Regions from separate parts of the Homo sapiens genome. Here region 1 is linked to region 2. The links come from fine-mapping of genetic effects on gene expression. Tissue or cell type: whole blood. Region 2 holds a variant in brackets; the other region holds the start of a gene. All regions are shown on one strand. Distances are from middle to middle.

Region 1 (8,121 bases), 250 kb after region 2:
AAATAACAGCAACCTAGCAGCCGCACGGCCCGAGAATAAGTTAAGGCACAGAGCAGGCGACGGGCGGCTTTCCCAGGGCCAGGCCTGCATGCCCCGAACTTCCTGAGCAAACTCCCTAGGGGCTGGGGTTTCGAGGGTCCTGGAGGGCCTCTTCCCTTGAGATGAGGGGAACGGAACAGGGCAAGAGGGGCGCCCCCATGGGCGCAAGGGGTCCACGCTGCGCCGCGATCACTTCTCGAAGTAGGGCAGGTAGAAGAACTGGAAGCCCCGGTGGCCCTTGACCGCGCAGTAGATGAAGATCACGTGATAGACTGCGGGGCGGGGCCTGTCAGCGCAGAAGCCCCGCCCCTCCCCGCAACACCGCCCCCAGTGCCGCCCCACAGCCCCCGCCCCTTCCGCCCCGGTGCCCGCTCGCACCTCCAGGCACCAACAACAGGAAGCCCGGCACGAAGAAGATGGCGCTGGAGACACCTGCGGGAGGGACCAGAGCCCGGTCAGGGCGAGGGGGCGGAGGCTTCGAGGCCTTCCGGGCTGCCGCTGACTGCCCGGGCAAGCCTCACTCCCAGCTGAAAAGGAGCCGTGTACTGCCGGGAGGTGGGAGGGCTTGCCGTGGACCCGTGGACACAAGACAGGGGTGTCCTCTGCCTGTGGGGGCGGGAGGGTCGCTCACCTGGAGAGGGGGTCGCCTCCAGTCCCACGCCGACCAGGATCAGCACTGCACACAGACGGAGCCGCGGGGGTGGGGGCAGGAGCAGTGGTGAGGGCGGGGGCTCCCACCCCCAGCCCGGCTCACCCACCACCTGAGCTGAAGGTGCCCTAGGCAGAGACCCTCCCCAGGAAGCTCACCAAGCTCTGTTTCCAGAGCAAGGCACTGAGCAGGCCCTGGGAAGTGTGTGAAAGGAGAGATTTTTCTTTGTTCCTTGGGGTGGGCTTTTAGTCATTCAGCAAACATTTATGGAACACCTACTGCGTGCCTGGTACTGGGAATTCCGCCCTGAAGGGCAGATAAGGTCCCTGCCCTCATGGCCCGTCCTTAGTGGAGGAACCAATAAGAACCTGAAAGCTAACAGTACAGGTGATTGGGATATAGGGGGTAAGAACAGGGCAGTGCAGGAGTCCTGGGTCCCCAGTTAGAAGAGTGATGGGGGAATGAGGAGCTGGACTTTGGGCTCTGCAACAAGGGGGGTAGTAAGCCTGGGGGACTGGGGGGCCACCATGGACTGCTTTGTGCATTGCCCAGACTACTTCAAAAAGGGTGGGCCAGGTGTGGTGGCTCATGCCTGTAATCCCAGTGCTTCAGGGAGCCAAGGCAGGAAGATCGCTTGAGGCCAGGAGTTTGAAGCCAGCCTGGGCAACATACCAAGATCCCCATCTCTATAAAAGGTTAAAAAAAAATTAGCCCAGCCCAGGCGTGGTGACTCATGGCTGTAATCCTAGCACTTTGGGAGGCTGAGGCAGGAGGATCACTTGAGTTCAGGAGTTCAAGACCAGCCTGGGCAACATAGTGAGACCTTGTCTCTATTATTATTTTAAAAAAAAAAAAATTAGCTGAGCATGGTGGTACATGCCTGTAGTCCCAGCTACTAGGGAGGCTCAGCTGGGAGGATGGCTTGAGTCCAAGAGTTTGAGGCTGCAGTGATCATACCACAGCTCTCCAGCTTGGGCAACAGAACAAGACCCTGTCTCTAAAAAATAAAAAGGGCTGGGCGTGGTGGCTCACGCCTGTAATCCCAACACTTTGGGAAGCTGAGGTGGGTGGATCACCTGAGGCCAACATGGTGAAACCCCATCTCTACTAAAAAAATACAAAAAATTAGCCAGGTGTGGTGGCGCGCGCCTGTAATCCCAGCTACTCTGGAGGCTAAGGCATGAAAATCCCTTGAACCCAGGAGGCAGAGGTTGCAGTGAGCCGAGATTGCGCCACTACACTCCTGCCTGGGCGACAGAGCAAGACTCCTCCTCAAAAAATAAATAAATAAAAATAAAGGGGTATAGGGTATGATGGGGGCTGAAACTCACTCCCTGCACCCTACAAAGGCCCTCTAAGGCGCTCTGGTAGCCCCAGGCTTGCCTTGCTGGGTTGAGGGGAAAAATGAAAGAACTTGGCAGCACTACCAGGGCCAGTGTACAGCGGTGCTGGGAAGTGGCAGCCCCCTCCCCCACACTCAAACACCCTGAGCAGAGGCCAGACTCTGTGCCAGGGGCCTGGCTGGCTGGGGAGCCTTGGCCTTCCTGGAGAAGCGGAGAGATGAGCCAGGGTAGCAGCCACAGTTAGTCCCTTCTTATGGATCACTCGTGACCCCAACCCTGGATCCTTTCTGGGGACTCTGCCTCCTCTACCCCAAAGAACGAGGTGCCTGGGAGCCAAAGAACACCTGGTGTGAGATCTGCCTGCTCTGGACCAAAAGTTCCCCCATCTGAGCAATGGGTAGGAGAGGGGTGCTTGTCAGTGCTTAGATGCCAGACAAGGGGAAGTGCCAGGTGCCCTGCGGCTCTGCACTGGCTGGGCACTCGGCATCCCTGAGCCCCTACACGTGGCTTCTGGGCACCACCTCACTTGTAGGACTTCTGTAAGATGGGAAAATAAAACTGCCCTGCACCTTGCCCAGAGTAGACACAGAATAAATGGTAGCTGCTACTCTTCTGTCCTCTAATGGATTTAAACAGGTTAAATTTTTTAAAAAAGGAAAAGTCTTTGCAGTGATAAGCCAGGTTCCATTTTCAGCTATGTGTGATTTCCTGGCTGTGTGCCCAGGTCACAAGGCCTCTGTCTCCTCACCTGTAAAATGGGAGTGTGATGATGGCAGCCAGCTGCCTCCTCAGGATGCTGGGAGGCTCAGTGTCAAGGGGGAGGCAGAGCCTGTACAAAAGGAGGGCAGAGCCTCCCACGGGGCCCCTCTTGACCCCAACCCTCAGGGCCACTCACCCAGCCCCAGCAGCAGGAGCAGGAAGGAGGCCAGCACCACTCGGCGGTTCTTCTGGATCAAAGGGTGTTGGGTCCAGCTGGGTGGCAGGAGAGCAGGGTGAATGTGAAGGAGGTGGAGGGAGGGGGTGCAGGAGGCTGTGGGGGTGGAGCCAGGGCTGCTCGGCTGGGGGCTTAGGCGGGCAGGCTCACCTGCAGCAGGTGTTGTAGGAGCGCTGGGTGCTGCTGCTGATGGTGCTGAAGGACCACTGGGAGCTGCGGATGGAAGTTCGGCTGGAATCCCTGCCAGGACAGGCGCCCAGTGAGGGGCAGGGAGGCAAGGACGGGGTTGCTTTGGGACAGGAGTCCTGATGAAGTGCAGGGCATGGTGCAGGGACTGGGGCTGGCCCCTTGCAGGATAGTGGGCCCTGAGAGGCCTCGGTGGGTGAGCATGAATTCAGGGGCTGGGGATGAGCTAGGGGATTCTGTAGGACAGGTGACCTGTATGAAGGTGGGGGCCAGACCAGACTGGGGGTTTCTGAAAGAGGTGAGTACAGCTGGGCACTAGGGTAGGGTGACCCTACAGTGTAGGAGACCCTGTGAGGAAAGTGAGGGTCAGGCTAGGAATCAATAGGACGGGATGGAAGAGAGTGAGTGAAGTGGGGTGGGTGACTGAGCAGGGTCCCTGGGGATAGGAGCTGGGGCTGGGGTACAGGGTTGGGTCCCCACCTGGCCCTAACCTGGTGCCGACTCCCCCATCCGGCTCCGGAGAGGCCTGGGCTCCATCCTCATCGTTCTCCAGGTTCTGTTGCAGAACACAGGTCTCAGGGGGGTTGCTGGGCTGGGGCCCTTCCTCACTCCCTCCCGGGAAGAGAAAAGCAGGCCTACACAACCATTTGCCTGGCCGCCTGGCAGCTGTTCACCTGGCCCTCTGCCCTCCCCGCAGAACGGGTTTGGTGATTCACAGAAACCAGGTAGGAGGTGGGTGGATGCCAGGGCTTTGGGGAGCAGGAGCCTGCATAGATCCCAGGGAAAGGAGAGCTCCCAACTTTGGGTTAGGGTGGAGCTCTCATTCAGTGGCCTAGAATGGGAGCTTGGGAATTGGGGTGCCAGGAAAGGCCAGGCCCAGAGTTCCCAGGTTCAAGGCACAGGGTTCTGGTCCAGGTCTCCAAGAAAAGCAGCCTAGGGTTGGTGGAGGTTTTCTGGGAAAATGGGTTTTTCTGGTTTAGTGGGAGCCAAAGGGTGGGCAAGGACTGGTCATGTGAGAGGAGCTCCAGCTCTTAGGGGTGGTGGTGGGATTAGGGAGAGGGCTTTCAGAATAGAGAAAGGCGTGCGGGTTCCCATCAGCTTAGCTGGCCTGGGGCACAGGGGATGCTCCTGCGTGTGGGGCAAGGTCTGGTTCAGATACAGAGGAGCTCCCCCAACCCAGCGGGGGCCAGGTGCGAGTAGCCAGGATGAGTGGGGAATCCGGTTGGGTTCCCCAGCTGGAGCTGAGGGATGAGCTCCCGGGCCCGGGCACTGGGCTCTTCCCGGCTGGCTGGGGCCCGGTATGGGAACCGGGAGGGCCTGGGCAGGGCTCTGGATCAAGAGTCACGTCCGCGGGGCGGGGGGGCGGTCTCGCGCTTCAGCTGGGGCCTCTAGGCAGATGCTTCCCCGAGTTGAGGCCTTTGGGGCCCGGCCTGGGGTCCCGTCCGGCCGGGGGCAGGGGGTTAGGTGGGCCGGGCGGTTCACCTGGTAGCGCAGCCGGGACTGCTTGTCCTCGTCAGCCACCTCGAACCGGGCCCGACGCTCGAAGTGCAGCGGCCCAAAGCGCGCGACCCCGCTGGACTCGGGCCCAGGGCCCCCGTCCTCCAGGGACAGCTCGAAGGCATCATCAATGCTGAACTGGGGCCGGGCGGCGCTCATGGCCCCGGCCCGCTCAGGCGCCGTGCGCCGCCGCCATCTGCGCCCACACACCCAGCGTCGCCGCTGCCCCGCCCCCGCATGCCCCGCCCCTCCGACCCTGGCTCCGCCCCACGCGCCGGTCCCGCCCCCGTCCGCCCTAAGCAGGCCAGAGTTGCCGAGCCCTGAGCGGGCTGATGGGTGGGAGCCTCTTCCAGACGGAGCGCGCCCGCCCCGTGACGCCACTCAGTGGCCGCCATGGCAAGCGACAGCCCGTGCCGGGCTCGGACACATCCCCCAGGCGTGTATGTGCGGGGGCTTGGAGGGGCTTCCACGCCCCAACCTCCAGGTCCCTGACAGGGCCTTTTGCACCGCAGCCTGTTCCTCGAGTGCCAAGGAGACTCCTGGGAACTGTTTCCCCACCTTACTCACAACAGCCCCGCACCGGAGGGGTGCTCTCCCCATTTTTGCAAATGTGGAAACCGAGGCTCAGAGAGCTTATGTGTCTTCCAATTTCCAGTCAGTCTCCACGCAGCAGCCGAAGTGATCTTTTAAAACAAATCTTTTTATCTGCGTGTGTTATTCTGAAAACCCTTTTTAAAAATTTTGCTGCTGGCCTGGCTCGGTGGCTCACTCCTGTAATCCCAGCACTTTGGGAGGCCGAGGCGGGTGGATCACTTGAGGTCAGGAGTTCAAGACCAGCCTGGCCAAAAGGCGAAACCCCGTCTTTACTAAAAATACAAAAATTAGCCGGGCGTGGTAGTGCATGCCTATAGTCCCAGCTACTTGGGAGGCTGAGGCAGAAGAATTGCTTGAACCCGGGAGGCAGATGTTGCAGTGAGCCGAGATTGAGCCACTGCACTCCAGCCTGGGCGACAGAGCAAGACTCCGTCTCAAAAAACAAAACAAAACAAACAAAAAAACCTTCCCTTGGTTTTCCATTGCACTTAGAATAAAATCTGAACTCTTGGCAGGGCACGGTGGCTCACACTTTGGGAGGCCAAGGAGAGTGGATCACTTGAGGTCAGGAGTTTGAGACCAGCCTGGCCAACATGGTGAAACCCAGTCTCTACTAAAAATACAAAAATTAGCTGGGCACGGTGACCAGTGCCTGTAATCCCAGCTACTTGGGAGGCTGAGGCAGGAGAATCGCTTGTACCCTGGAGGCAGAGGTTGTAGTGAGTGGAGATCACACCACTGCACTCCAGCCTGGGCAACAGAGCAAGACTCCATAAAAAAAAAATGAACCGTGGTGGGGGGCGGTGGGGGTGGAAGAGCAGAAGTACTCTATGAATTAGGTGGACCTGGTTTCAAATCCCCATTCTACCACTTGTAAGTACTTGGGACTTTGGCAAACCCCTCATTCATTTCTGCCACAAGTATTTATTAAGCATCTATTTAGGGCCAAACACTGTTTTGGGCACTATAGATACAGTGGTGAATAAAACAGTGCAAAATGAGACAGTTTCAAGTGCTGTGTGATGCAAAACTGACTTTAGATTTCGTACTCAAAGATGACCTTTCCAAGAGGTGACATTTGAGCAGGAATGCCGATGATGAAGGAGCCAGCTGTGAGAAAAGCAAGGTTCAGTGTTTTCCTGGCACCAGGGAACAGCACGTTCAAAGGCCAGGAGGTGGGAAGGAGCTTGGCCTGTGGAGGAAGAATGTGAGAAAACCAGTGTGGCTGAGCAGCAAGGAAAGGGGCAGGCCGACTTGATGAGCCTGGGAGGAGTAGATGGGCCCCAGAGCCTTGAGAGCTTTATGGACCTTAGTCAAGAGTTCTTTTTTGTTTTTGTTTTTTTCGACACAGGGTCTCGCTCTGTTGCCCAAGCTGGAGTGCGATCTCAGCTCACTGCAACCTCCACCTCCTGGGTTCAAGTGATTCTCCTGCCTCAGCCTCCCGAGGAGGCTGGGATTACAGGCATGAGCCACAGTGCCCTGCCTTATTATTATTATTATTATTATTATTATTTTTGAGACAGAGTCTCGCACCGTCACCCGGGCTGGAGTGCAGTGGCAAGATCTCGGCTTGCTGCAACCTCCGCCCCCTGGGTTCAAGCGATTCTCCTGCCTCAGCCTCCCCTGTAGCTAGGATTACAGGCGTGATCTGCCCACCTCGGCCTCCCAAGGTGCTGGGTATGAGCCACCACACCCGGCCTCATGTTCATTTTATGGCCTCATGTACAGAGCTGAGTCAAGTCTACTTCTGTTTGTTACACATCAACACTATGAATAAGGCCCCTCTCGAGTTATGTTAATTCACTTACCCTCTTTCACTTCCCAGGTTCCTTCCTCTCCCCTGCCTTCCATCAGACCCATGTCAGCATGCTCAGTCGGCGTCCTTAAAGCCTGCCTGGCTCTGTACCATGTATGGCACTGTCTCCTATGTGGATGTGTTTGCAATTTACAAACATGATGTCATGCAGAAAATTCAGTTCTGTTACTTACACGTTTACATTTTTGCTCTCGATGCTGTTTTCCATATGCATTTGTTTATTGTTTCTACAGGCTACATGCATGTTGTACCATGTTGAGTGTCTAGCACCTTTATGATCCACCTCACCTCCACAGTGTTGTACACTCAAACTGGCCTCAACCCCGCCATCACAGGCATCACTGCAGTTAACATCTTCCTGCTGTCCCCTTATGGACTGTGGGAGAATTCCCCTTGGGGTAGGATTTCCAGGTTATAGGGCACACGCACTCATGACTTCACAGGGTACCACAGATGCTCTCCTGAGTGGCTGTGAGAGTTGACACTCCACCTGAGGCTTCTGGTTCTCTCAGGACTTGGTACCATCCAACTTTTTAATGGCTTGCCGATCTGATGAATTTAAAGTGGTACCTCATGTTCCTCTGGGTTCTCTGATGGCTGGAGAGTTTGAGCTGCTCTTTGTGCCCTTGTCAGCCATTGGGTGTCCCTTGTCTGTGAACTGGCTTTTCATATCTTTGGTCTTTCTTTTTGCTATTGGGTTTCTAGCCTTTTTCCACTAATTTGCATATCAACATATCTAATCATTAATTCCTTGCTGGTTTATGACCTTGCACATATTTCCTATCTGTCTGTCTTTGACTCTTTGTCTAACATGCTCTCAAAGAATAATCACTCCTTTTCAGGCTGGGTGCAGTGGCTCATGTCTGTAATCCCAGCACTTTGGGGAAGCTGAGGCAGGAGGATCACTTGAGGCCAGGAATTCAAGATCAGCCTCAGCGTAGCAAGGCTGATGCAGGGCAGGTGATCCCCAAAATTGGGGCTTAGCCCAAGAGAGTGCTTGGCTTCACCTGGGAAAGAATTCAAGGGTGAGCTGGTGGTGTTAGACAGCAACTTAAACATTTTT
Region 2 (8,000 bases):
GTCTTGAACTCCTGACCTCGTGATCCACCCGCCTCAGCCTCCCAGAGTGCTGGGATTATAGGCGTGAGCCCCCGCGCCAGGTCATGTTAGCGTATTTTATGTGTTGCCCAAGCAATTCTTCTTCCAGTGTGGCCCAGGGAAGCCAAAAGATTGGACACCCCTGAATTGTAAACTATCTTGTACAGAGCCTGGTTTATAGTTGGTGCTCCAGTAAACGTTTATTATGTGCTAAGCATTTGATGTGCATTTTCTCATTTAATGCTCATGAGCAACCATAAGAGGTATTATTTATCCTGGTTTTATAGAGGAAATTGAGGCTTTGAGAGATTAAGTAACTTGACAAACCACTAAGAAGCAGAATCAGAGTGAAGAGTGTGATCTAGGGGTCTTGTACTAGTTCTCTGAGAGAGACTTACTGTAATGTGTGTTTTCAGCCACTGCCCTCTGTTCCCCTTCTCCTAGGCTGGATTCATGCTGTGTATACTCCTACAGACACATTAGTGTTTGGGGGCAATTTTTTGCATAGCTTCAACATCCCTATGCAGTTAAAAATATACAACATTGAAGATCGGACACGGGTAAGTAATCTTATGTAACAGTTGCATGTGAAGAGGTTTACTCCAGTTATGATAGATGTTACAAGAGATTCACTGATGGTTTATCAAAACTTCCATTTTTCTTTCAGTTAAAATGCAGTGTTGACATTTTGGGAACACACAAAATTTTAAATTTAATTTTTTTTTTTTTAAGGCAGAATCTTGTTCTGTTTTCCAGGCTAGAGTGCAGTGGCGTGATCATGGATGATTGCAGCCTCAACCTCCCAGGCTCAAGCATCTTCCTGCCTCAGCCTCCCAAGTAGCTGGGACCGTGGGTGCACACCACATCTGACTAATTTTTAATTTTTTTCGTAGAGACTTGGTCTCACTGCGTTGCCCAGGCTGGTCTAGAACTCCTGGTTCAAGCAGTCCTCCCACCTCAGCCTCCCAAAGTGCTGGGATTACAGGTGTGAGCCACTGCGACTGGCCAAATAAAAATTTTAACACGATTTACATACTCCGTTTTAGGGACTCCAATTCTGTGAGGTTTTTGGTATCTTGGATTTCTTTTTCTTTCCTTTTTTTAAAATTTTATTTTATTTTATTTTATTTTTTAGCCAACACCATAGTGAATGGGAAAAAGTAACATTTTTTTCTTTTAATATTTGGGACAGAGTCTCACTCTGTTGCCCAGGCTGGTGTGCAGTGTCACAGTCATGGCTCACTGCAGCCTCAACCTCCCTGGGCTCAGTTGATCCTCCCACCTCAGCCTCCCAGGTAGCTGGGACTACAGGCACACGCCACCACATGCAGCTAATTTTTTTGTATTTTTTGGAGATGGGTTTTTGCTGTGTTGCCCAGGCTTGTCTTGAACTCCTGGGCTCAAGTGATCTGCCCGCTTTGGCCTCCTAAAGTGCTGGGATTACAAGTGTGAGCTACTGCATCCCACAGTATCTTGGATTTTTATAAGGCCAGACATTTACCTCTGGTAATCTCTTGAGCCATGTGTTTCATTTTTATGCTCACAGAATAATTTGGTGTAATGGGGCTTATCAACCCAAATTTCAGAACTTTAAATTCATGTATCTTTTTCTACACTGATGACTATACTCAAAGCATCTTACTTTAATTATATAAATGTATATACTGTCTTTCTCAACTGGGGTTTCAAGAGAGAATTAAGCCCAAAATAAAATAATTTGTGTATCTTATTTTCTCATTTTTCTCTAGGATGATACACAGCTAATACCCTTCTAGATGCATAGAAAAAAGTTAATTTATTATATACAATGGATACCTTAAGGCAAGAGTTGACAAACTTTTCCTGCAAAGGACCAGATAGTAAATATTTTAGGCTTCGTGGGTCATAAAGTGTCTATTGTAACTGTTTAACCCTACCTTGTAGCATGAAATACTTAAACAAATGAGTGTGGCTCAAATAATATAAAATTTTATTCATAGACACTGAAAGTTGAATTTCAGATAACTTTAACATGTCACAGAATACTCTTAAATTTTTTTCAACCATTAAAAAATGTAAAAAACGATCCTTTTATATAGTTCATGATCATGATTAGGTGTTCATGCACGTATGTGAAAGATGCCACCCTTGAACCTTGTTACTATTAATACGTCAGCACATTACCTGTCTGACCCGAAAAAAAAAAAAAAAGGTAAAAAACACTCCTAGTTCACAGGAATCATAAAAAGAGGCAGCAGGCCAAATCCACTAAGTGTTGTTTGCTGGCTAGCCTCCACCTTAGAGAATGAGAGCTTATTTTTTAGCAGAATTCTAATTGGTAAGGGCTGAATCATATATGAAAGTATAGATGATACTGGGATTAAACAGCAATTAGAATATTTGGGGGTTGTGATGTTTGTAAGTTACTCTCAAGTAGCTTAGCAGAATACTAAGCTAGTATGGAGATGAGCAGATGTGGAGAAATGTTAACAGTTGGAGAATTGCAGAGAAGAGTGTAGAACTATTAATGCTACTGCTCTTGAAACTTTTTGGTAGAATTAAAAGTATTAAAAATTTTAAAATAACAATTAATGAAGAATTCACAACTTTTATATGAATGGTCTTTTATATATTATAGGAATGGTCACTGACCTATGTACTGCAATAATAGTCAACCATTATGGTGCCTATTTTGCAACATTTATTTTGGTGTAGGAGTTACGTATCACTATACACATCATTGATATTATTGTTGGAGTTACAGGAATTGCCCTACTAGTAGAATTAAGAGAGGAAGCCAGTGCTTCTTCAACACATTTTATAAAAGTACATTTCTTTTTATTTGTTAAGAGTAACAAAAGTACAGTTCAGGCACAGGGGCTCATACCTGTAATTCCAACCCTTTGAGAGCCCAAAGTGGGAGGATTATGTGAAGCAAGGAGTTTGAGACTCTCCTGGGCAACAAAGCCGGGTGTGGTGGTGCATGCCTGTAATCCTAGCTACTGGGGAGGCTGAGGTGAGAGGATTGCTTGAACCTAGGAGTTCCAGGTTGCAGTGAGCTATGTTGGTGCCACTGTACTCCAGCCTGGGTGGAAGAGTGAGACACAGTCTGTTAATTTAAAAAAAAAAAAGATGTCTATTCTAAAATAGGTAAATATTCTAAAATAGGGAAAATGTTTCAAAAGAAAAAAAATGTATAATTCCATAGTAAAATACTCCTGTTTAACTCTGTCATTCTTTTTTTTTTTTTTTTTTTTAATTTATTTTTTTATTGATAATTCTTGGGTGTTTCTCACAGAGGGGGATTTGGCAGGGTCATGGGACAATAGTGGAGGGAAGGTCAGCAGATAAACAAGTGAACAAAGGTCTCTGGTTTTCCTAGGCAGAGGACCCTGCGGCCTTCCGCAGTGTTTGTGTCCCTGATTACTTGAGATTAGGGATTGGTGATGACTCTTAACGAGCATGCTGCCTTCAAGCATCTGTTTAACAAAGCACATCTTGCACCGCCCTTAATCCATTTAACCCTGAGTGGACACAGCACATGTTTCAGAGAGCACAGGGTTGGGGGTAAGGTCACAGATCAACAGGATCCCAAGGCAGAGGAATTTTTCTTAGTGCAGAACAAAATGAAAAGTCTCCCATGTCTACTTCTTTCTACACAGACACGGCAACCATCCGATTTCTCAATCTTTTCCCCACCTTTCCTGCCTTTCTATTCCACAAAGCCGCCATTGTCATCCTGGCCCGTTCTCAATGAGCTGTTGGGCACACCTCCCAGACGGGGTGGTGGCCGGGCAGAGGGGCTCCTCACTTCCCAGTAGGGGCGGCCGGGCAGAGGCGCCCCTCAAAACTCTGTCATTCTTAGAGGTAATTATGTACCCATTCTAAGATTCAGTCTGAAAATTGGTTTTTAGAATGTGTTCCCTTTTTATGGTTAAAGATGACTCTTACACCTGGGTCTTATACACTGGTTCAGTTTCAGGGAAGAAAAGGAAAATACATATTCAGTAACATAAAGTGAGTACCTTATCCCCTGCATGAAGAGTTTTCTACGTAAAGAGAAGAAAAATAAGGGGGAAAAAAAAAAAAGGCCAGGCACAGTGGCTCACACCTGTAATCCCAACACTTTGGGAGGCTA[G/A]GCAGGCAGATTACCTGAGGTCAGGAAGTTGAGACCAGCGTGAGCAACATGAAGAAACCCTGTCTCTACTAAAAATACAAAATTAGCCAGGCGTGGTGGCACATGCCTGTAATCCCAGCTACTCAGGAGGCTGAGGCAGGAAAATCGCTTGAACCTGGGAGGCGGAGGTTGCAGTGAGCCAAGATCGTGCCATTGCACTCCAGCCTGGGCGACAAGAATGAAACTCCATCTCAAAAAAAAAAAAAAAAAATTATTTCCAAAAAATGCTAACCCAGTCTTAGAAATTGATATGCGGCATAAGTAAAAAGCAATGGGGTCAGGTTGGGTATGTGGTATCTCTTGGCTATAATTAATACAGTCTTATAAGTTACGAGTAAAAACTCAAAATTTTAATGCCTGTATTTCATATTTTCTTCCTTTTTTCTTTCTTATTTATTTATTTATTTATTTATTTATTTTTGACACAGGGTCTCACTCTGTCACCCAGGCTGGAGTGCAGTAGCATGATCTCAGCTCATTGCAGCCTCAACCTCGTAGGCTCAAGTGATCCTTCTGCCTCAGCCTCCTGAGTAGCTGGGACCACAGACGCACACCACCACACCTGGCTAGTTTTTTTATTTTTATTTTTTTGTAGAAACGAGGTTTTACTATGCTGCCCAGGCTCGTCTCAAACTCCTGGGCTCAAGCAGTCCTCCAGCCTCAGGCCCCCAAAGCCTTGGGACCACGGGCATGAGCCACTATGCCCAGACTCTTCTTTTTTTTAAACTGTCATTATTACTCAGCTTTCAACTGATTTCCAGAGGGCTTTAGAATTTGGAGTTGTCCTGAACTCCTAATAAAAACCCTTCCAGAAAGTGTTGCTATACTTAAAAGGCTAATGGAGAGGCGTAGTGTATTATATTTAATTTTGAGGGACCAAATACCTATTGGTTGTTGTCTCTCTCCTCTGTCTCCCTTAGTCAGAAATAAATTAATTTTACTTCCGTGTAAGAGAGTCATTCTTTTAGTTGTTAAAAGTTTTAGCCACATAAGAAACCAGAATCAGGGTCTGGCTACTATGCATTAGAAAACTGATTGGGGCTAACTATGAAAAGTACATCTCCTCTCCTGCCTTGCCATGGGGAGAGTGATCTCCTTATTCCCCAGTGATGCCCTGTGGCCTGGTGAAGGTTTTTGAAAAGGGACTCCTATCCAGTTCTCCGTGATTCAGGAACACTACCCGATATAGAGTTTGTAAACGGGTAGGTGAAGTCATCCCTACAATATGGGAGGAGATGGGAACATTCTCAGGAGCTGCATATTCAAAACAGTATCATTTGGCTTATCCTTTTGAAATATGGCCTCTCTAAAAGAAAGCTGTATGGCCAGATATGGTGGTTCATGCCTATAATCCCAAGTACTTTTTGGGAGTTTGAAGCGAAGGATCACTTAATCCCAGGAGTTTAAGACCAGCCTGGACAACATAGTGAGACCCTGTCCGTACCAAAAATTAACCCCTTTCTTTTTTTTTTTTTTTTTTTTTTGAGACAGAGTCTCGCTCTGTCCCCCAGGCTGGAGTGCAGTGGTGCGATCTCAGCTCACTCTGCAAGCTCCGCCTCCTGGGTTCACACCATTCTCCTGCCTCAGCCTCCCGAGTAGCTGGGGCTACAGGCACCCGCCACCAAGCCCGGCCAATTTTTATATTTTTAGTAGAGATGGGGTTTCACTGTGTTAGCCAGGATGGCCTTGATCTCCTGACCTCATGATCCACCCACCTCAGCCTCCCAAAGTGCTGGGATTGCAGGCTTGAGCTATCTTGTCCGGCCAAAATTAATCCCTTTCTCATTTTCCCCAATGATACTCACCAGGGGCACTTGGCAGCTGCAGCATTTTTTTTTTTTTTTTTTTTTTTTTTTTTGGAGACAGAGTTTCGCTGCTGTTGTCCAAGCTGGAGTGCAGTGGTGTGATCTCAGCTCACTGCAACCTCCACCTCCCAGGTTCAAACAATTCTCCTGCCCAGGCATCCCGAGTAGCTGGGATTACAGGTATGCACCACCACGCTAATTTTTGTATTTCTAGTAGAGACGGGGTTTCAGCAGGCTGGTCTCGAACTCTTGACCTCAGGTGATCCACTTGCCTTGGCCTCCCAAAGCGCTGGGATTACAGGTGTGAGCCATCACGCCCGGCGGCTGCAGCATTTACCCCAAGATAACTTTGCCACGAACTATCTCGCTTTTATTATTTTCACATCACTCTAGTATACTGACTTTGAAAACAAAAGATATCATTCTATTTATAGCATTCTGTTTTTAGTAGTGGTATTTCTACTTACAAAATATAGTTATTCTTGATTGCTGAAAATGTCAAATCCTAGAAAACATAGCATTCCTATGCGTGATGTTAACATCATTCTTGGGCAGGCGTGGTGGCTTATGCCTGTAATGCCAGCACTTTGGGAGGCTGAGGCGGGCGAATCACTGGAGTTCAGGAGTTCGAGACCAACCTGGCCAACATGGTGAAACCCCGTCTCTACTAAAAATACAACAATTGGCCAGTCACGCTGGCTCACGCCTGTAATCCCAGCACTTTGGGAGGCCGAGGTGGGTGGATCACCTGACGTTGGGAGTTCGAAACCAGTCTGACCAACATGGAGAAGGCGTGTTTCTACTAAAAATACAAAATTAGCCAGGTGTGGTGGCGCATGCCTGTAATCCCAGCTACTCGGGAGGCTGAGGCAGGAAAATCGCTTGAACTCAGAGGCACAGGTTGCGGTGAGCCGAGATCACACCACTGGACTCTAGCCTGGGCAATAAGCACAAAACTCTGTCTCTAAATAAATAAATAGCTGGGCACGGTGGCTCATGCCTGTAATCCCAGCACTTTGGGAGGCTGAGGCAGGTGGATCACCTGAGGTCAGGAGTTCGAGACCAGCCTGGCCAAGATGGTGAAACCCCGTCTCTACTAAAAACATAAAAATTAGCTGGTCATGGTGGTGCACACCTGTAATCCCAGCTACTTGGGAGGCTGAGGCAGGAGAATCGCTTGAACCCAGGAGGTGGAGGTTGCAGTGAGCCAAGATTGCACCATTGCAGTCCAGCCTGGGCAACAAGAACAAAACTGTGTCAAAAAAGAGTAAAAATAAATAAATAAATAAATTTAAAATAACAATTAGCCAGGTGTAGGGGCACACACCTATAATCCCAGCTGCTCAGGAGGCTGAGGCAGGAGAATTGCTTGAACCCAGGAGGTGGAGGTTGCAGTGAGCCGAGATCCCACCACTGCACACTAGCCTTGGTGACAGAGCGAGATTCCATCTCAAAAAAAAAATAATAATATATCATTCATGAACAGTTGTTGGCCAGAGATTCATTTGATGGATCTGATTTTTCTGAAATAGACAATCCTGATGATTCAGACCATCCTGCTGTTAGTTTTGTTTAGAAATAACTCCAAAGACAGTTTTTATATTTTATGTTCACCTTGAAAATCAATCAGATTTCCAGCCAGGCGCAGTGGCTCACGCCTGTAATCCCAGAACTTTGGGAGGCCAAGGCGGGCAGATCACGAGGTCAGGAGATCGAGACCATCCTGGCTAACATGGTGAAACCCCGTCTCTACTAAAAATACAAAAAATTAGCCGGGCGTGGTGGCGGGCGCTTGTAGTACCAGCTACTCAGGAGGCTGAGGCAGGAGAATGGTGTGAACCCGGGAGGTGGAGCTTGCAGTGAGCCGAGATCGCGCCACTGCACTCCAGCCTGGGCAACAGAGCAAGACTCCGTCTCAAAAAACAAACGAAAATCAATCAGATTTCCTTCAGCATCAAAGAGCATGTTTATGTAAAATTAAATGAGCACTGGCCGCGAGCTGCTCTTTTATTTTCTAAAAG

Evidence for each region. PIP is the estimated chance that this variant, and not a neighbour inherited with it, causes the effect.
Region 1: it holds the start of TMEM134, and the variant in region 2 is fine-mapped to the expression of TMEM134 in whole blood (TOPMed, PIP above 0.99).

Annotation. Positions count from the first base shown.
Region 1 is chr11:67,464,386-67,472,506 of GRCh38, forward strand. It overlaps TMEM134 (transmembrane protein 134), which reads right to left and starts at 4,866. Exons shown (of 7, transcript NM_025124.4): 1 at 4,634-4,866; 2 at 3,643-3,707; 3 at 3,116-3,205; 4 at 2,927-3,003; 5 at 671-715; 6 at 418-471; 7 at 1-311. The coding sequence starts at 4,807. The coding sequence ends at 229. RefSeq lists silencers at 4,451-4,590, 4,801-4,940 and enhancers at 4,478-5,102, 5,091-5,270.
Region 2 is chr11:67,218,826-67,226,825 of GRCh38, forward strand. KDM2A (lysine demethylase 2A) reads left to right here. Exons shown (of 21, transcript NM_012308.3): 10 at 463-578. LOC124902839 (small nucleolar RNA U13) reads left to right here and starts at 2,083; the gene lies at 2,083-2,191. RefSeq lists an enhancer at 3,433-4,312. The variant G/A (reference allele first, on the strand shown) is at 4,136.